Linked DNA regions of Homo sapiens: regions 2, 3, 4 and 5 are each reported to be linked to region 1. The links are microRNA targets in miRTarBase. Many come from high-throughput screens and were not tested one by one. Region 1 holds a microRNA gene; each other region holds the end of a gene's coding sequence.
What was found. The annotated mature microRNA hsa-miR-6887-3p reads UCCCCUCCACUUUCCUCCUAG and lies in region 1 at 1,201-1,221, opposite strand. An mRNA with a match to its seed (bases 2 to 7 or 8) in the 3' UTR can be bound and repressed. Matches are read on the target gene's strand: a 7mer-m8 pairs with bases 2 to 8, a 7mer-A1 pairs with bases 2 to 7 and ends in A, and an 8mer does both.

Region 2: miRTarBase lists TOMM22 as a target of hsa-miR-6887-3p. Seed matches in the 3' UTR shown: 7mer-m8 at 1,457-1,463.
Region 3: miRTarBase lists SLC35A2 as a target of hsa-miR-6887-3p. The part of its 3' UTR that is shown has no 7-base or 8-base seed match.
Region 4: the mRNA of KCNJ10 is a reported target of hsa-miR-6887-3p. Seed matches in the 3' UTR shown: 7mer-m8 at 983-989 and 8mer at 875-882.
Region 5: miRTarBase lists ACTN2 as a target of hsa-miR-6887-3p. Seed matches in the 3' UTR shown: 7mer-A1 at 3,609-3,615.

What each region holds. Positions count from the first base shown.
Region 1 is chr19:35,119,848-35,123,964 of GRCh38, reverse strand. MIR6887 (microRNA 6887) reads right to left here and starts at 1,265; the gene lies at 1,201-1,265. It overlaps FXYD3 (FXYD domain containing ion transport regulator 3), which reads right to left. Exons shown (of 9, transcript NM_005971.4): 4 at 2,855-2,887; 5 at 2,720-2,743; 6 at 1,126-1,200; 7 at 1,011-1,047; 8 at 657-694; 9 at 1-524. The coding sequence ends at 508. RefSeq lists enhancers at 1-818, 819-1,708.
Region 2 is chr22:38,683,334-38,687,450 of GRCh38, forward strand. TOMM22 (translocase of outer mitochondrial membrane 22) reads left to right here. Exons shown (of 4, transcript NM_020243.5): 4 at 434-2,088. The coding sequence ends at 508. It overlaps JOSD1 (Josephin domain containing 1), which reads right to left. Exons shown (of 5, transcript NM_001360236.2): 5 at 2,210-4,117. Among named protein-coding and RNA genes, the nearest start is that of TOMM22, 3.4 kb to the left of the region's middle.
Region 3 is chrX:48,899,605-48,903,721 of GRCh38, forward strand. It overlaps SLC35A2 (solute carrier family 35 member A2), which reads right to left. Exons shown (of 5, transcript NM_005660.3): 5 at 3,579-3,861. The coding sequence ends at 3,834. It overlaps PQBP1 (polyglutamine binding protein 1), which reads left to right. Exons shown (of 7, transcript NM_001032382.2): 3 at 1,586-1,697; 4 at 2,326-2,438; 5 at 2,629-2,913; 6 at 3,128-3,191; 7 at 3,324-3,539. The coding sequence ends at 3,480. Among named protein-coding and RNA genes, the nearest start is that of PQBP1, 3.7 kb to the left of the region's middle.
Region 4 is chr1:160,037,486-160,041,602 of GRCh38, forward strand. KCNJ10 (potassium inwardly rectifying channel subfamily J member 10) reads right to left here. Exons shown (of 2, transcript NM_002241.5): 2 at 1-4,117. The coding sequence ends at 3,908. Among named protein-coding and RNA genes, the nearest start is that of PIGM, 7.6 kb to the left of the region's middle.
Region 5 is chr1:236,762,222-236,766,338 of GRCh38, reverse strand. It overlaps ACTN2 (actinin alpha 2), which reads right to left. Exons shown (of 21, transcript NM_001103.4): 21 at 1,708-3,878. The coding sequence ends at 3,720. Among named protein-coding and RNA genes, the nearest start is that of MTR, 31 kb to the left of the region's middle.

The DNA of each region.
Region 1 (4,117 bases):
ATCCTATGTCCCAGTTTTCCTGGAATGGTCCAGGGTCCACTGGAATGTTCCAGTGTTCCATCTGGTTAGAGCTCTCTTTCATTCCTTTTGGCTACTAGTAAATCCCAAATTGCATATGAGGTTCCCATGGCTGAGGAGGCAGAGGGCGGGCCTGTGCCATGTCCCAAGCCACAAGGGAACAGGCCTGTGGGCTTTTCCCAACAAGCAGGCTCAGTGCCAGCCTCTGTGTCAGCCTCCAGGGCACGCCAACCTTCTCATGGTGCCCCAAGCCCCACCCCAATGCACACATAGGAAGTCTCCAGGCTGCTTGGGCAGAGGCACAATCATTTTAGATTAAAAAAAATTGAACAAAGAGACCCTCTTGCGAGAGGTGAGATGAGGCCCTGCCATGCAAAGGAGTCCCAGCAGAGGAGGAAGAATTCCATCCTGGAGTTCAAGTTTCTGTGCAGAGACAGGACCTGGGGACAGAGAACGGTCCTCCACCCAATTTCAGCTGGTCTGTCCTCATCAGCTTTGGGCTGAGCCTGCGGGAAGTGATGGGGTCCGTTTGTGAGGGTGGATTGAGTTCTTTTCTTTCCAGTGTGCAAACACACACATACACACACACACACACACCACTTCCGTGTTCCCCTGAGCCCCATGCTGCCCCATCTTACCTGGGGTGATGAGAGGTGGAGTCTCCCCTGGATGGTGACTAAGGAGACAAAAGTGGTGAGATTGGTGTCCGCCCCCATTTGCCCTCTCCCTCCGGATAGAGGGTTCTTAGCCTGCCCAGACATGTCTTCCTGGCTGCCTTTCCATTTGGGGGGTTGTGCAATCCCAGGGGCCAAAGCATTTCAGGATTTGGGGCCCCCTGGGGATTACCAGCTAGAAACAATAAACCTGGAAATCTTAGCGGCAGGAACTCTAAAGGGCAGAGCCCCGAGGCCTCTCCTGCTGGGAGAGTTAGCCCTTTCACCCTGAAAAGCGTCCAGTCAGCCTGAGGCGGGCATGCCGGAACAGTATCTTACCCGGACTTCTGGCCAAACTTGCATTTGCATTTTGCACCTGTTGGGGAGAGCTGAGTGGTCAGGGGAGGGGAGCCCCAGCCCCGGCCCGCCTGCTCCCCCGAGCTCCTCCACTCACTCATGACGATGATGATGCCCATGGCGCACAGAACCCCAGCGCAGATGAGCCCGCCAACCTGGAGGCTGTGCCAGTCTAGGAGGAAAGTGGAGGGGACCTCAGTGCCAGCCTGTGTCCTCTCCATCTGTCCCCCCATTCTCTTGACAAATATATATGGAGCACCTAGGATGCACAGGGTGCTGGGGACACCGCCATAAGAAAACAGACAAAATCCCAGGTGCTCACATTCTGGTTCACACACCAGCAAACACGATCTGTCGTGCAGGGTCAGGCAGAGATAAGTGGTTTGAAGAAAAATAAGTGGGGTGGGAGATGGAAAGTCAGAGGGCGGGCTGGGCATAGTGGCTGACACCTATTAGGTTGGAGCAAAAGTGATTGCGTTTTTGGCTAGACATGGTGGCTCACGCCTGATATCCCAGCACTTTGGGAGGCCAAGGTGGGCGGATCACCTGAGGTCAGGAGTTCCAGACCAGCCTGGCCAACATGGTGAAACCCCGTCTTTACTAAAAATACAAAAATTAGCCAGGCATGGTGGTAGGCGCCTGTAATCCCAGCTACTCAGCAGGCTGAGGCTGGAGAATCATTTGAACCCGGGAGGCAGAGGTTGCAGTGAGCCAAGATTGCACCATTGCACTCCAGCCAGTCACACTCTGGGTGAAAGAGCAAAATTCTGCCTCAAAAAAAAAAAATTGCATTTTTGCCATTAAAAGCAGTTGCAAAAACCACAATTACTTTTGAACCAACCTAATATAATCCCAGTGCTTTGGGACTTCAGGAGTTCAGGAGTTCTAGACCAGCTTGAGCAACATAGTGAGAACCCATCTCTACAAAGTATACAAAAATTAGCCAGGCATGGTGGTGTATGCCTGCAGTCCCAGCTATTCAGGAGGCTGAGGCAGGAGGATCGCTTGAGACCAGGAGTTTGAGGCTGCAGTGAGCTATGATTACACCACAGCACTCCAGCTTGGGCAACAGTGTGAGACGCTGTCTCTAAAACAAAAAAAAAGTCAGATGGCAGCTCTTTTAGAGGGAGTTGTCAGGGAAGGCCTCTCAGGGGGCTGCATTTGAGCAGAGGGAAGGGAGGGAGCCATGTGGTTCTGTGGAAGGAAGTGTTCCAGGCAGAGGAACCAGCAGGTGCAGAGGTCTGAGGCTGGCAGTATGTCTGCTGTGTCTGAGAGGCTTGGAGCAGAAGGAATGAGGAGCGTGGAGAGGTGAGGGCAGAGCGGGGAGTAGGGAGCAGGTCATTGGAACCTGGAGGCCAGATGAGGGTTTTGATCCAATAGCTCACCACCTCCAGGAAGTTTTCTCAAGTCAACACTTCTCCCAGCAGTTGATCTGAACCAACCAATGGCTTCTTGCAAACTGTCCTCACCTCCTGCGTGTGTCTATCTTGCTGGAATAGAACCTTCCCAAAGGCCAGGTTGCTGCCTCTAGTTCCTTTAATCCACTGTGTGGCATATTCAGTAACCCCATCCTAGTCCCTTCGTATCTTTGTCCTGTGATGCTCACGTCAGGCCCCAACCCTGTATGGGAACCCTTGGCACCAAGCAGTATGTGGGGTTGTGGGGAGGGGAAAGGGGGCACGGGCTCTCACCATAGTAGAAAGGACTGTTTTTATCTGCAAGGAAAGAAAAAAGATCATGAATCCAGGATTACAGCCAGGATGCAGGCCTTCCCCACCCAGGGGAGAATTTGGGGGTGTGACGGGTGAGAGTCCAGTCTGACTCACCTTCTAGGTCATTGGCGTCCAGGACAGGAAAGCCTAGTGGGAGAAGAGGGGAAGGAGGGGAGATGGTGATGCCGGCCTCAGCCAAGCCTTTGGGCAGGGCCTGGGGAGTTTCAGGGGCCTTGGGAAAGGGTCTCCTGCGGGACAGGGGTCCTGTCACTGAGCAGCCACCTCATCCCCTCATATCCCAACGAGGAAATGTGGACTCGCCCACTCAGCCCCACACCTCCGAGTCACGCCAGCATTCTGCCACCTGAAATGGGTTCTAATCTAGGAGGTTTTTAGCCACTATTTGGTCTCATGTTTCCAGACACGTGGTTAATCCATGCCTCCTGCAGCAGCGGGGGACTTTTCTGGTCAAGACGACAGATGGTTTCAGTTCCCAGATTCCTGTTTCCCCAAGTCCAATCATGCTCAAAGCCCATCCTCCCGCTTCCACCATGTCCACACCCACCTGGTCTGGTGTTTGCACATCATTGAAAATGACTCACTATTATACACTTAAATAGACTTTATTGAAAATGTAATTTTAGATCACTACCCTGCAGGGAATACTGGTCTTGCCCTATGTAATGGACAAAAAGTGTGCCTGTAATCCCAGAGCTTTGGGAGGCTGACGTGGAAGGATCTCTTGAGCCTGGGAGGTCAAGGCTGCAGTGAAAAAGTAAAAAGCGGGCTGGGCACAGTGGCTTAGGCCTGTAATCCCAAAACTTTGGAAGGCCGAGGCAGGAGGATCACTTGAGGTCAGGAGTTCGAGACCAGCCTGGCCAATATGGTGAAACCTTGTCTCTTCTAAAAATACAAAAGTTAGCCAGGCATGGCAGCACACGCCTGTAATGCCAGCTACTTGGGAGGCTGAGGCAGGAGAGTCGCTTGAACCTGGGAGGTGGAGGTTGCAGTGAGCCGAGATCATGCCACTGCACTCCAGCCTGGGCAACAGAGCGAGACTCTGTCTCCGAAAAAAAAAAAAGAAAAGAAAAAAGGGAAAAGTGTTTGGAAGTTAAAGATGCAGTCGCACTGAGCTGAGCCTTCTACTTGAAGTTTTTAGAGAACTGGCAGGGCAGTTATCTTCTTTCAGTGCTTTGAAGGTGTCATTTCATCATCTTCTCTAGCTTCCGTTATTTCTGTTTAATAGTCAATCAAGGCCAGTGCAGTGTGGCTCATGCCTGTAATCCCAGCACTTTGGAAGGCTGAGGTGGGAGGATCAAACTCAGCCAGGAGTTTGAGACCAGCTTGGGCAACACAGTGAGACCTCGTCTCTGCAAA
Region 2 (4,117 bases), not on the chromosome of region 1:
TTCATAAGGAGCTTGCAACCTAGATCCCTCGCATGCACTGTTCACAAGGGTTTGTGTTCCTATGAGAATCTAACACTGCTGCTGATCTGACAGGAGGTGGAGCTCAGGCAGTAATGTGAGCGATGGTGAACAGCAGTAAACACAGATGAAGCTTCTCTCACTTGCCTGCTGCTGATCTACTGCTGTGTGGCTCAGCTCCTAACAGGCCATGGGCCAGTGCCAGTCCACAGCCCAGGGGTTGAGGGCTCCTGTTGTAGCACCTGAGTTGACCAACAGTTAATGTGTGGGTGGGGATTGGGATCGGGCCCATGCTCTTTTAGTTGTCTGACTGTGCTTTCAGTATTATTTTTGTAGACGTTGGCCCCATCAGGTATGGTGAGAATAAGCTCTCTAGGCCTGTATGATGCCTTACACCCCTCCTTTTCTTTTCCAGATACTTCTAGGACCTAACACAGGGCTCTCAGGAGGAATGCCAGGGGCTCTACCCTCACTTCCTGGAAAGATCTAGATTGTTATTGCTGTTTGAGCTGTCTCAGTGGGATAAGTTTGAAATTCAAGTGTTTGAACTGCTGATAATTTGGATTTTTTTTTTTTTTTAACTTTGGCACATTGATCTATCTAAACCTGGTGGGGAGAATTATCCCCACATTGTCTCATGGAAAGACTCAACTTGCAACTGTGCCCTCCACACTATCCTTACTTCTGTCTCCACTCTGATACCAGAGTGCAGCCATGCAGATGGTTATTCCAGCTCTGGTCACCCGACTCCTTTCACCAAATTGCTCCTAACTGGAAGATCTCACTTTCCCCTTGTGGGGTAGGAACCGATGCCAGTGGGAGGGATGTGCCCCTGACCATTAACGACTGTTTTTTTTTTTTTTTTTTAAAGAATGGAGTTGTTGGGGCAGGACATGCACACAATGTGAAACAGACAAAATGCATTACACCTGTAGTGTAAAGTGGCCACTATGAATCCCTATGTATGAGAGGAGGGAGGCAGGCTGCAGCTTCAGCCACAGAATGGGGACTATGGAAGACAGCAGGAGCTCATTTCCTCTGCACATTTTGGCTGTTAGACCTGTGTGTGTGTTTAAAAAAAGAGAAGTCAGTGCTCACTTTTTGTATTTAAATATTAAAAATGATTCCAACTGAAAGTGTCATCCTAAGTACCTTGAAATGAGACCACGTCAGAGACATGTACTGCCCCTCACATTTTCTCACCTAAACCAGCAGCACCTCCATCTTAACAGCCATAGGCCCAAATTGTTTCCAAGTGAAAATTCATTTTTAGCCAAGTACTTCATAGCAATCTTTGCCCTGAATTTAGGCAGTCACTTTGAGATCCATCAGCCTAAAACAAAGGATTGGGTCTATGTACTTCTTTAGTCTATAATGACACTGTGTAATTATAAAGTATTTGTAGGGAATAACATAGTACTGATTTCTGGGGAATAGGGGAGGGGGACAGAATTTTTTTTTTTTTTTTTTTGCCTGAGATCAGGTCTCACTGGAGTACAGTGGTGTCGTTTGGGTTCACTGCAACCTCTTACCTCCCCTCCAACTTGGCCTCCTGGGTAGCTAAGACTACAGGTACACGCCACCGTGCCCAGCTAGTTTCTTTTATTTTTGGTAGAGTCAGGGTTTCGCCTTGTTGCCCCAGATAGTCTTGAACTCCTGAGTTCTAGCCATCCACCCGCCTCTGGCCCCTCAAAGTGCTGGGATTATAGGCGTCACCCACCACGCCCAGCCAGAGTAAGCCTTTTGTGTGTTTATCAGATCAACCAACACTACAATCTAGGTGGTACTGTTCCCATTTTACAGAAGAGGAAACAGCCACAGAAAGGTAATTGCTCAAGGCTGCAGAGTTAAGTGCTAGACCTGGATTCAAATCCAGGCAGTCCAGCTACAGAACACTGCTGCTGTGCGCTCGGGATGGTGGGGCTGGGCCCAGGCCCGCTGGGTATACATGATCTTTCACTTGTTAACTAGGGAAAAACACTAGTCACCAGTGTGGTACAAACTTGTACTTAGGTGGATTCTTCAAATTGTCAAGATTAGTTTTTATAAATTAAAATAGACTGAAAAATGTCTTAGAGACATCTTTTGAACCAAATCCCATTTCAGTGACTATTTTGTCTGGATTTCTCAGGTGAAAGAGTTAATCAAAGAATGATATGTCTCTAAAAGATGACTTACGCTGGCAATGAACTCCTTTTAAAACAGCGTCATACTAAAGTTTATTTTTCTTTACACAATTATAGAATTCAGGCAGACAAGGAGACATATATGGAGTTTTCCATTTTTAATATTTGGTTAAACAAAATACATCTTTTGTAAACAAACGCAGCACAAGGCCAACAACAAAAAGGAATAAAAGCAAGAAAAACAAAAAGCCTAGGGTTGCCCGTTATTGGGCATCAGGGTCAGGCCTGTTCACTTCCTTAAAGGAAGTGGGGCTTTTTGCCCTTGGGCATCAGCATGGGTCCCTGTTCCTAAGCACCAGAATTGGATATGAACAGAGAAACCAGCCCTGAAATGTTTAAGCGTCTTTGCATATCCCATTGGCTCATGGACTCCAAGTGCATGGGGACTCTTTCAAGTGCCATTTGCACAGGCCCAAGTGGATTTGTGGAGAGGAGTTTCCTCCTCTACCCAAGAAATGGCTTACTATCTGACAGTGCCAGTGGCCCCAAGGTCCTGCTTGTGACAATCAGCAAGGTTGGCTGTAATGTCTGGCTGGTGGTGGTTGGAATGTCATTGTGCAGGGCAGGAAAAGAGCTCCCTGTGGTGCCAAGCAGGTCTGGTGTAGAAAATGGTGCAGAAGAGACTGCGGCCAGTTGCTGAGAAGATATAACGCAGTAGCCGCTTGGTGGCCTGTTACTCAGCATTAAAAAAACGGCCTTGTTGGATTGAAGATACATGTGCAGAAAAAGTGCTGGTGTCAACATGCACTCCAGTCACAGGGGGGAGAAAGCCCAGCTTCACCCCGTTAAGCTTGCTCAGGATCAACATGCAAGCCCCAGGCTGGCTTTGCTGCTGGAGAGAAGTCTGGCCAGTGGGACAGCTCTCAGACCTGCCACGACCATTGATCTGAGGGCCAGCAGGTCACCCCTGCCTGCCACCTGCCTTGAGGCAACCACATCCACTTTGGAGACACGCATATGGTATGATACTTATTTCTCCTCTTTTGTTTTCCAAAGTTACAAGAGAAAAGTGGCCTACAACTATCTGAAGAGGTAGGGGCGGGTTGAACTTCCATTGATACAGAGAGGAAACGACATGAAGATGACCAGCCCAGGTCCTATTCCATCCATACAGCACAGAACCACCCAACCTGAGCTTGGCAACTACAGTGGCAGCCTCCGAGCCTAGAGTGTCTACTGAATTGTGGCTGCCCCTACTCCAAGAAGCCTGTCTTCACAATACTTTCCTCACCCAACGCTGCCCCAAATTAGTGGAATTTGATGTCAAAAGCAGACTTTTTTTTCCTGATTTTGCCAGAGTGAGTGAACTGGGAAAACTGCTCTTTGGCTTCTCTTTTGTCCCAGAGCCTCCTAAATCAATGCTGCGAAATGGTAGGGACAACACTGGAGTGAAGAAACCAAGCCACCCCATGGCTGTCCCAGGTTGGCTTTAGCCACATCCTGTTCAGTATCCTCCTCACTTCATACTAGAATATTAGTTAATTTTTCATTATAAAACTCTGCCGGGTGCGGTGGCTCACGCCTGTAATCCCAGCACTTTGGGAGGCCAAGGCGGGCAGATCACTTGAGGTCGGGAGTTTGAGACCAGCCTGACCAACATGGAGAAACCCCATCTCTACTAAAAATACAAAATTAGCCAGGTGTGGTGGCAGGCGCCTGTAATCCCAACTACTTGGGAAGCTGAGGCCTGAGAATCGCTTGAACCAGGAGGTGGAGGTTGCAGTGAGCCGAGATGGTGCCATTGCACTCCAGCCTGGGCAACAAGAGTGAAACTCAGTCTCAAAAACAACAACAAAAAACCTCCACGTATGGCCATAAACCACCCTTAAACCTGGGGATAAGGGTTGGAGACAGCATGCTGTACCGCTGCTAGGGTTTTGGACATGGTTTCCTGAGAGACCTTTATGCTCTGG
Region 3 (4,117 bases), not on the chromosome of region 1:
AAAACAACAAAATAATACTGACCACCTAATGCCTATTTGGGGCCTACTGTATGCCAAGTTAAATCCCATGGATTACTCTATGGGGGTGATGACATAGTATCTAATAGGAAGTACTGCTAACCTCTACTGCTGTCTCCTGTGTGCCAAGCGTAGTTGCAGTGAGGATCTATCATTTAGGCCTACTGTGCTCTGGCTGCAAATCACACCTTATTATCAGTAATACTAAAAACTGGCATCTATTTGGGGCTATAGTGTGCCAGGCACTGGAAAATATATCTTCTCCTTATTGATAACTGACATCTATTACAAGCCTACTGTGTGCAAGGTATAGACCTTGTGGTTAATAAAATTGTCAATGATCCCAGGCCGGGCAGGGTGCCTCATGCCTGTAATCTCAGCGCTTTGGGAGGCGGAGGTGGACGGATCACGAGGTCAGGAGATCGAGACCATTCTGGCTAACAGGGTGAAACCCCATCTCTAATAAAAATACAAAAAACTTAGCCGGGCGTGGTGCCAGATGCCTGTAGTCCCAGCTACTCGGGAGGCTGAGGCAGGAGAATGGTGTGAACCCGGAAGGCGGAGCTTGCAGTGAGCCGAGATCATGCCACTGCACTCCAGCCTGGGCAACAGAGAAAGACTCCATCTCAAAAAAATAAAACTGGCAATGATCATTGATTTACTTTTTTTTTTTTTTTTTTTTTTTTTTTTTGAGAGAGTCTCGCTCTGTCACCTAGGCTGGAGTGCAGTGGTGCAGTCTTGGCCCACTGCAACCTCTGCCTCCCGGGTTCAAGCGATTCTCCTGCCTCAGCCTCCCGAGTAGCTAGGACCACAGGCGTGCTCCACTGTGCCTGGCTAATTTTTGTATTTTTTAGTAGAGATGGGGTTTCACCATGTTGGCCAGGCTGGATTTTCTTTTAAGCCTATTGAATGACCTGTGCCTATGGTATATATATTATTTATTATTTGTTTAGAGACAGGGTCTCACTCTGTTGCCCAGGCTGGAGTGCAGTGGCACGATAATAGCTCACTGCAAGCTCAAAGTCCTGGGCTCAAATGAGCCTCCTGCCTCAGCCTCCTGAGTAGTTGGGACTACAGACGTGTGCCACTGTGCCCAGCTAATTTTTTTTTTTTGTAGAGACAGGGGTCTCACTATGTTGACCAGGCTAGTCTCACAGACGGGTTTTCACCATCTTGGCCAGGCTGGTCTTGAACTCCTGACCTCGTGATCCACCCACTTTGGCCTCCTAAAGTGCTGGGATTACAGGCATGAGCCATCACGCCTGGCCAAGATGAGTAAATTTTTTGATGAATCCCTATCAACTCTGAAACCAGATAGCTTTGGCTAACAGTAGAACTCATCATCTGAACCCAGACACAGATTTAGGTAACCTTTTTTTGTAAACCTCCTAATATAGAGAGTTGGATTTGGAATGTGAAAGATACTTCATATTCTTCCCGGCACACACACACACGTGTCTTTTATGTGTGGCTTGTGTGAATGTGAGTGCGTGTCTCTAGGCTCTACATGTAGGATGAGGTCCCCTGGTCCTTATCTGCTCTCCTCATCCCCACCTTGTTCTACCAGAACCAGAGGAAGAGATCATTGCCGAGGACTATGACGATGATCCTGTGGACTACGAGGCCACCAGGTTGGAGGGCCTACCACCAAGCTGGTACAAGGTGTTCGACCCTTCCTGGTGAGCCTGGGTGAGGGGGAGCTAACTTCTGGCTTCACCCTTCCTGTGCTGACCTTGGTTGTGAGGTTTAGGGGGACACAAGGGAGGGAGCCTCGGGTGGAGGGTGTTGGCATTAGGTATCTGCAGGACTCAAGTTGCTGCCTGCTGGGGCCTGGCTCCTCTGGGGTTGGAAGACTGTCTTTTCTCTCTTTTTTGAAACGGAGTTTCACTCTTGTAGCCCGGGCTGGAGTGCAATGGTGTGATCTCGGCTTATGGCAACCTCCGCCTCGTGGGTTCAAGCGATTCTCCTGTCTCAGCCTCCCAGGTAGCTGGGATTACAGGTGCACACCACCACACCCAGCTAATTTTTGTATTTTTTGTAGAGATGGGGTTTCATCATATTGGTCAGGCTGGTCCCGAACTCCTGACCTCAGGTGATCCGCCTGCCTCGGCCTCCCAAAGTGCTGGGATTACAGGCATGAGCCACCACGCCCAGCTGACAGTGTTTTCTCTTCAGGAGAAGAGATTCTGGGGATCCTGCCTGTGGGGTCCTGACATGGGGCAGGTATAGGCAGAGACTGGGGAGACAAGAGTTGAGGATCCAAGGCAAGGACATCTGTGCTGACACTTCTTTCCTGCGGCCCCACAGCGGGCTCCCTTACTACTGGAATGCAGACACAGACCTTGTATCCTGGCTCTCCCCACATGACCCCAACTCCGTGGTTACCAAATCGGCCAAGAAGCTCAGAAGCAGTAATGCAGGTGAGTTGGCAGGTACAAGCGTGCCTTGAGTGATCTTAGCAGTTCTCACGGAGAGGCCAAGTAGAATGATAGTGGATCAGAGGGGCAGGTGAGACCAGGCGGGCCCAGCCTCAGGCAAGGGAGGTTGTTGAAGGCAGAGGCTGCTGGGTCCTGGGGTGGCAAGAGGTCACTTCAAGACTTGTGTCCCCAGATGCTGAAGAAAAGTTGGACCGGAGCCATGACAAGTCGGACAGGGGCCATGACAAGTCGGACCGCAGCCATGAGAAACTAGACAGGGGCCACGACAAGTCAGACCGGGGCCACGACAAGTCTGACAGGGATCGAGAGCGTGGCTATGACAAGGTAGACAGAGAGAGAGAGCGAGACAGGGAACGGGATCGGGACCGCGGGTATGACAAGGCAGACCGGGAAGAGGGCAAAGAACGGCGCCACCATCGCCGGGAGGAGCTGGCTCCCTATCCCAAGAGCAAGAAGGGTAAGCTGGGCAGAATGGGGCTCGGTGAGACCAACAAGGTGCAGGGTGCACTGCGTGAGGAAGCCTTCCCTCAAAAAGATGCCTGGACCTGGGGCTAGAGGAGGGTGCTGTGGTACATGGCAGCCAGGGGCTTCATTTCTTCTTGTGGGGTGGGGCTCAGTGATCAGGGGATCCTGGTGCCTCTATTGAAGACTTTGCCCTGCCACTTCCACAGCAGTAAGCCGAAAGGATGAAGAGTTAGACCCCATGGACCCTAGCTCATACTCAGACGCCCCCCGGTAAGTGACAACCCCTCTTGACTCAGTACGTGGACACCATCCTCCGGCCTCCTTCCTCCATTCCTCATTGGGACCAGGTGGGCTGTGTCCGCCACATCACCCATCCCCATCCCCTGACTCTTTCACCGGCAGGGGCACGTGGTCAACAGGACTCCCCAAGCGGAATGAGGCCAAGACTGGCGCTGACACCACAGCAGCTGGGCCCCTCTTCCAGCAGCGGCCGTATCCATCCCCAGGGGCTGTGCTCCGGGCCAATGCAGAGGCCTCCCGAACCAAGCAGCAGGATTGAAGCTTCGGCCTCCCTGGCCCTGGGTTAAAATAAAAGCTTTCTGGTGATCCTGCCCACCATACCTGAGTGCTTCCTTTGAGGCTGCCCAACCCAAGTCGGCAAGATACACAACACATTTTATTTGCAAAAACTCAGCTAAGAGATAGTGTGGAGCTGGCAGGGGCTGGGGGGCTGAGCTGAGGTGGGTCATGAGAGAGCTTAGTCATGTTGGCCCTGGGTGGGGCAGGGGTGGTGGGGACAGGGAGTCCAGTGTCTACCTCACTCTACCCCTAATACTGATCAGAGTTTGGTCCCAGCTGGGCCAAGGGCAAGAAGAGAGAACGAGGCCAGGCCAATGTCTTCAATCCCAGCGGCTAGGAACCCTTCACCTTGGTGAGCAACCTGTGGTGGGAATGGGGAGGAAAGAAAAACACAAAGCTGGGCTAGGCTGGCAGGCGGGTTTCCTGAGCAAGTGAGGGCGGCGGTGGTGAGGCTGGTAGTCCTGGGGTTAGTAATGGTGCCCACCTGGTCAGAAAGCTACACGTGGACTAAATAAATACAACATCTTTATTTGGCATTGGATATCCTGACATTTGTTCATTACAGTTCCTTAAAAAACAAACCAAAAAATCAGAACAAATTAATCAAAAATAAAGAT
Region 4 (4,117 bases), not on the chromosome of region 1:
CATTTTATTTAGTAGCTTATTTTTAACAGACAAAAACAAAACAAATCTTACACACCTTTTTTTTCCTAGATAAATTTGACCTGGTTTAGTCTTTAGTGCAATGAATGGAAAAAACATCCCTAAATACTTCTGCATCAGTAGAGTTGGCCATTACTGAGCCTGGAGACCCATGCTAACTTTCCAGCAAAGGTAGTGTGTTACTGTACAAGTGAACTAGGTTAGCTAGCAAGAATAAAGGACCAGGGCAGCAGCCATGGAGAGGGCACAGTGTCCTGGACTTGTAGCAATAGTATAACTGGCTTTCTTTCTCTGCTCAGACCTTATAGGGAAACTACTGGATGATTTTATTAGGCTGACAGGGGTTGGGGGAATAATGGGGTGAAGCACATTGCAGAGATTTCGGAAGCCTCTCATGGAACTTCACCATCCCCTAGAGCAGCTGGTAACCCCACTCCTCATTTTCATTCAGAAGCATCAAAACCAAAGCATCACCCTCCATGCCCAAATGCCAGGATTGGAACTCTTCTGGAATCCATGGCTTTCTCTTTGGGCTGCTTGCAGCCACACAAAAGGCTGGGCCTTGACCTTGGGAGATCTTCAGCCTAACAGCTATTAGTCCTGGCATTTGGATTCCAGGGTTGAGGCTTCCCATTAGTGCCTCCCATACACCAAAGTGTTCAGCTCCTGAGTTTGATTTCAGGGGCTAGAGCAATAGCAGCTCCCACCCCTGTGGAAGACGGAAATACAGTGTACTTCATGAAAGGGAAACAAAATGGTGCTTTATTTTATTTTATTTATTTTAAAAAGGCGCTACAGTGGCAGGACGCTGCTGGGGATGGGGACACACAGTGTAAGTGGTAGATTTTCCAAGACTTCCCCTCCCTATTGTCCTCCGAGTTCCTCTCTTCCTGGTCCTATCAGTAGCATAGGATTCAACAAAAGCCTTCATGAATGCCTCTTTATTTCTGAAAAGGAACTTCTACCCCTCCCTTTCCCATTTCCAGACTTGAAATCCTTCATCAGCTATCTCACTTCCATGTTGAAACCAGGACCACTGATTGTAAGTCTGAAAATCTGGGTGTCCTACCCCATAACCAGGCCAAGATATCTGCCCCCAATGCTAAAGTCTCTGAATATTTCCTTTCTGTACATTCAATATATTTGGGCATATATACATCTATATACATCTTTCTATATATATATTATCTCTGTTTCTTTCTTCTTAGATAAACCTTTCATATATGTCATATCCTAATTTCCCAAGCCTCCCCACTTCTTGTTTGCGAGCCTAAGCAAGACTCAAGAGTTTCATTGATTTCACTAGGTCCCTCAGCATCATTTCTTTCTCATCTTCTCACCCCAGGTATCTTCCCCCATCAGTTGTTTCGCCCGTCTTCTGAAATCTCCCCTTTTTACACCTGTGCCTACCGAAATCTCCCCTTTTTACAACTGTGCCTACTACTCTGCTGATATTCCAAGTCCACAGTTGGTATGGGGGCCCATTTCTCACCAGACCTGGCTGCTTCTAAAGCTCGGCCTATTGCCTAAAAGAGGATTTCAGGTCAGAGGAGACAGACTATAGTCTAAAGAACCATTTAGAGTTAAGGTAGGGGGTAGTTGTTCCCTGTAGGGGGCTTGTGGGAGAAGATGCCAGATCGCATTAATAGGACAGTGTGATTTAAAGTGCAACTTAAAGCAAAGCCTGGGTAATAATGGAGGAGATTCCAAAAGGGTAAGTCAGAAAATGTTTTCTTCTCACTGTTTCATCCAAGAGTCTAGAGGCTTGAGTCTGGGGGCTTAGAATAGACAGCAGGGGAATGGGAAGAAAGCATAGCATGGCCAAATAAACCAGATGGAGGTTAACTTGGCAATGGATAGGAAGGTATAGACACACACACACACACACACACACACACACACACACACACACACACACACAGCAGTACATCTTGTCCCTACACACTGAAAGAAATAAGGTAAGTCTAATGTTGAATAAAGTTGAGAACGCAGAAGCTGGCTCTTGGCCTTCTGTTCTCTGTTTCAGATTTTTCAAGTTTTTGTGGTTCTTGTTTTTATGCCAACTAGAAGGTAATGGTGGGGTTTACTGTAGATGGACACCGAAGGGTCTTTGTTTTCAAGATATAGTTAGTTGAGTTCGAGGAGAGATCAATATAACAAGACCTTGTGCAATTATAGTTGGTGGTGATCATGGGTCTAGCCTCAAAATTTTGTGTTTCTCTGCAAGGCTCTGTACATAGATGCATGTATATATTCTGTAGCTTGTAACAATTGGCTGAGACCACCTTAAACTGCAACTTGACTTATAGTGGGACTATGCAGTACCACTATGTGAGGCTTCCTTGGTACCAAAGTGAGACCAGAAAGCACTCTAGGGATTTGGGGCTTTGGATAAAGCTCTGGTGCCTATATGCCCTTCCCTGACCCTTACCACAGACCCCACCAGGGAACAAGGAATAGGCTGAGTTTGATCTCTTAAAGTCTACTTTTTAACTTGTCTGAAAATGGCCTCATGGCAGAGGAGAGTAGAGATGACACTGATTTCTTCATTTTATACCAAGTCTCAGGAATGGCTGAGGGAAGCCATGGTTATTTGATCAGAAGGTATAATTTCATTTCCTTCCAGCATTGCCTAATGAAATAGCTGGCACTTTTCAGAAGGGCACTGGGAGGTGTAACTGAGAATAGTGGCTGCCAGCCACAGAGTTCTGCTCCTGCCCAAACCTTAACAAAGCATCACCAATTCTCAGAGGCTCTGTACAGCAGTTTGGAAATCTGAGAATTTACCCATCCCTCATGGTGGGATTGTGTTAACTTTCTGGGGAATCTGTGCCCTGTGAATCTAGTTTTACTTGAGCATCCGTGTTAAGAGAGGAAGGCCCTTGCATTTTCCCTCCCTTCTCCCAAAGAGTTGGGGTTAAGGAAGAAGGATCTAGGCTGAGCAGGAAAGGAAGAAGAGAAGCCAGGTACAGTGTAATCTGGAATATTATTTTCAGACCTTTCCATGGGGCCTGGGTACTGGACTCTTTTCAAAGGAACATATTGGCTTGGGTCCTTCCATTCACAGGACACAGGGAAACAGATCTTCTCTGGGCTGCCTGGAAGATAGGTTTAAAGGTTTAGATAACAACTTGTGTTAGTCACTCCAAATTGAAGAGTTCAGAATCCAGGATAGATATGGGTGGTTATATGTTTATGTTTCTTGGGCCAACTCCAATTCTCTGAGAACAGAGGCTATGAGGGAACTGGGTATCCTGAGAGTGTTCACTTGAGAAACTACAGAGGGAAAACAGTGGCGACCATGGTTCTAGCTTATGGTCAGAAGTCACCAGCAGAAATCAAGCTTCACAGTGGCAAACCCTGGCTTCTTTCAACAGAGATTGGTAGAAACCCTAGGATATGTTGATATCAGATTCCTGTATTTCTGAAAGCACAGACCACAAAGTGACCATCAGAGAGAGTCTTGCCTTTGGGAACTTGCTAGATGGAAAGGTAACAGAGGGAGCTCCAGCCTCAAGTCACCAAACTTCATGGTGGTGGTGGGAGGTAGGGGGCAGTCTATCCTTCCAACCACATGGTCCTCCTAATGTGAGTATCCAAGCATGGCTGAGGCCTTCTAAGCCACTTCAGCCTAATCCCACTCTTTCCCCCATCCTGGCTTAAGGGAGGTATGTGTATTGGGGCAGAAGCTGGGGAAGTGGAAAGGGGACAGTGGGAGGCGAACCTGGACTCCAGTTGGCCTAAGCTACCAACAGGCCACTGGGTTAAAGAAGAGGGAGTGGAGGATGGGTGCTTCGGGGGATCTCCAGTAAACCCGGGTAGTATTCCTTACCAGGGCATTGGAAGAGAGGAAAAGAGACCAGAGGAATGGGGGAGTGGGAACAGGTCATCAGACATTGCTGATGCGCACACTAAGGGCACTGCCCTCCTTCTCAGCTTGCTCCCTTAATGACTCCTCCAACTTGAGCTTTTCAGGGTCTCCGTAGCGTACAGTGCTGTCACGGAGGCCACTAGGAGAGGCCACTTTCACAACTTGGTCAAAAAGGCTAAAGTCAGCTATGTATTTACCACTGGCTGACAGTGAGATGGCAGGTGTGAA
Region 5 (4,117 bases), not on the chromosome of region 1:
CCAGACATTCCATCCATTTTACAACAAGGAGGTCTGCACTGCTGGGGAGGTAACTCCTAAAAGACTTAAATCCCAGAGGGAATTCATGGCCAGGGGTCACTGACAAATCGCAACTCCTAGCACCTTAAAAAGAATAACGGTCTGTCAGTTGCTTAAGGATTGAGTTATTAATTAATGAATCTAAAAAGGAAAAACGACGCTGTCTTCTCTGCTGACTCCATCTGAAATATGAAAATGTCTCAGAGCAGTATAATTATTGTGTAGGCTCCAGGGAACCCGAAAGAGCTCAAGGACACAGTGGGAACTCAGTGTCTTCTTGTCAAATAATCCAGGGAAGCTGTGGGTGAATCTTTGTCAGCCTGGTAACAACTAGCAACTTCTGAAAATACATGTTTCTGACTCCGTATCACTTAGATTTGTTTCCTTTCATATGAAGCCTGTAAAGAGCTCATTTCCAGCTTATTTCCATGAACATAGATGAATCTGGTATACAGCAGGAATGAATACCAAGCCAAATGCTCTAATTTAAAACTCAGTTATGTCAAGCATTTCTGTATTACCAACCAGATGGCACAAGGGTTTGCCTGGCCATTTGTATTGCTCAACTATTAACCTTGCCAGTAAGGTCTTCTCTAATCATTTTATTAGACTTTTTTTCTTTTTTTTTTTTTTTGAGATGGAGTCTTGCTCTGTTGCCCAGGCTGGAGTGCAATGGCACTATCTCAGCTCACTGCAAACTCCACCTCCCAGGTTCAAACGATTCTCCTGCCTCAGCCTCCCGAGTAGCTGGGACTACAGACGCACACCATCAAATCCGGCTAATTTTTGAATTTTCAGTAGAGACGGGGTTTCACCATGTTGGCCAGGATGGTCTCGATCTCTTGACCTCATGATCTGCCTGCCTTGGCCTCCCAACATGCTGGGATTACAGGCGTGAGCCACCACGCTTGGCCGTTTTAGACTCTTGATTCTTAATGACCTTTCCTTTGCCTCTAATCCACGGGTTCTCATGGGGGGTTATTAGAAATTCCATGGAGTTTTAAAAAACTGCAGATGTCCAAGTCTTACCTAGACCTTCACAGCTTGAGACTCTGGGATTAGGGCTGAGTATGCATACATTTTAGAAAATATTTACTGAGGATTCTGAAGTGATCTCTTGGTTAAAAATTCCTTCCTAATCTATTCATCACTGATTTTTTTTTTTTTTTTTTTTTTTTTGAGATGGAGTTTCACTCTTGTTGCCCAGGCTGGTAGTGCAATGGCTCCATCTCGGCTCACTGCAATCTCCACCTCTTGGGTTCAAGTGATTCTCCTGCCTTAGCTGCTGAGTAGCTGGGATTACAGGCATGCAACCAAACCCGGCTAATTTTTGTATTTTTAGTAGACATGGGTTTTTGCCATGTTGGCCAGGCTGGTCTTGAACTCCTGATCTCAAGTGATCCGCCCACCTTGGCCTCTCAAAGTACTGGGATTACAGGTGTGTGCCACCATGCCCCGGGCCATCCATCATTCACTTCTAAATGGTTCATTGTTAATTCTCCATCTTATGTTCACCCTCTACCCAGTAAGCCTGTCTCTAATTCTTTAAGGGAGGCAAATACTAACCCAATGACTGTTTTTAATTCTCATGGAACCTTTAAGTGAGGAAGTTTGTTTGTAGTTAACCAAAGTAATGGTTATTTTTTGAAATAACAAAAATAGGGATTCTTTTTTCTTTTATAAATTAAGTTTAATTTAGAAACTTATAAACGTTTTAATTTTTGAGCATCCAGCTTCAGAAATAAAAATAATACCTAAAATGAGAGTATAAACATGTTTATTATTTTTCAGAGTTTACTTCCTTTCTTCATTTATTAGCAGATAGAGACTACTGACCCCCTCTCTTGCTGAATGTTGTAAAGAAATTAAAAGTTTAGGTAGATGAGTTACCCACACCCATCCTAAAACACCACAGAGCCCCCTAATAGCCTCAAAGGAAGCACAACTTTCTGGCTTTTCTATAGGGGTTTATGGCCGGGATATAGCACCTACTTGAAATAAAATAGAGTCAGAGTTCATCTAAACCACCCCAAAAGTGTTTGGCATTAAACTCAAGGATTCAAATATTTCAGGAATCTGGAAACTACCAATTACTTAATAATGAAGCAAATTAAGTGAAATTCATAAAGGTTGAAGGTTCTAAATGGCCCAGTGTAGGAAGAAGAGTCAAGCTGTCAGACAGCTTGGAATGGAAATATTACATTTCCAGCTGTTGGTGGAAATCTATAAAAATCTGAGCAAACAGACTGTAGGTAACAGACATGTTACTGCTTCTCTAGTAATGCTTTAATTGCTGTTTGCAACTGTTTTTGTTTGTTTGTAATCCATTTCCTGATCATTAAGGACTCAGATATAAAAAGAATTCCTGCTTTATTCTCTACAAGCTGTCAACAAGATGGAAAAACAGGGGGGAATTATAGCCTACAGCAGTATGAGCAAAAAGAAAGAATGAACATTCAACAGATCAAGATGTGCTAGCAGGAGTGCATGTAGCATCCTGTGTCATGGAGCAGGCCTTTAGACACAGAACCAGACATGGGACTTGTTAGGATACACTGTCCAATCCCAGGGGTGAACACACACCGCACACTAGCTAAAATATCTAGTTATTCCTACTACACAAAACATATGTAAAGCTTCCGCAAAAGAAAGAACTCACCTCCACTGCTGCTGAGAATTAGTCCTCTCCTACTCTAACTCTGGCTTCTCCTTAACCGGTCATAAAACTAGAGGCATAAGGAAGTCCTGACTGGAGAGCTAGAAGGATACTGGTTTCTGACTTGCCTTGTGATGAACCAGTCAGTACTACAGAAACCTGCTTATTTATAAACAGAGCACTTTTATGTGGTCATCTCTTGAGAACCTGTACTAATAAGCTCTAACAAAAAGCATGGGAACCTGGAATCAATAAATAATCCTAAAAACCTCATTTTACCTAGTGATTGCATCCTTCTCTCTGGCAATTAAACTGACTTCCACGTGTCCTTAGGTCTCTATTCTGGAGGATAAGAGAAGCATCAAAAAATCACTGACTGAGTTGACCATCCAGCCCTAAATAATGAAGAGATGACATAAACTATTTTAAAAATTGTAAGTGCCAAAAATCTTTTGGGTAGTCTTTTTAATCCCCGGCAGTTCCATCTCACAATATTAAATTCATTTGAAGATACAATAGTAATCTTTGGATAAGCATGAAAATAAAACATTAGAATCCCAAATATACTCCCCTAGGGGCAATCACATAAGCATATTAGAGATAAATGAAATTTTTTACAAATAGCAAACCTTTATTTACCAATTTGTGGTTTTTTCCCCCCGGTCTTAAATCTTGGGTATTTTGTATTTTCACATTTTTCACTTTCCTTCTGTCCCTAGATCCTCCTAATTTCCTATTACTCAAGTAATTTGTTCTGTTTAATCAAAGAAATCAACCTGATATTTCATTACATTTTGCTAAAAACTCAGAAATAAACCTATTTATGAAGCGCACTATGTCATATACTGTAAAAACTTCATTTTAGCCGTGTTATATTGCTGGCAATTACTGAACTACGAAAGGCTTTTTTTTTTCCCCTCTCTCTCTCTCAACTTAATAAAGCTTGTCAAAGTTTCCAGGAAACAAACTGTGACTTCCGCTTTTATTGCATTCTGATGGGATGAGTGATTACAGAAGCTCAGCATCACAGATCGCTCTCCCCGTAGAGTGCGGAAGAGAACGCAGCGTAATCCAGTGCACCAGGCACACTGCCTGGGCCCGAGTAGGCGGGCATCCTCTTGATGCAGTACTGGGCCTGATCCGGGGGCAGCTCCCGACGCAGCTCCTCCGCCAGGATGTATGGCTGGGAAAAAATACACACGTGTTTGCAGTCAGTTGCAGAAACACCACAACATAAACAGTCTTAATACTTACATATTTCTTGCATCTGTTTAATTTTTTAAAAGGACTAAAGAATAGGGAGTCTATTGGCATAGTAGTACCAGACAACCAACAGAAAGCCAAGTTTTACTTGTAGGAGCGTATCTAGAAGCGGCCTGGCCAGCAGGAAGGGTGATATGCTTCATAAAGGCAAATGGAGCA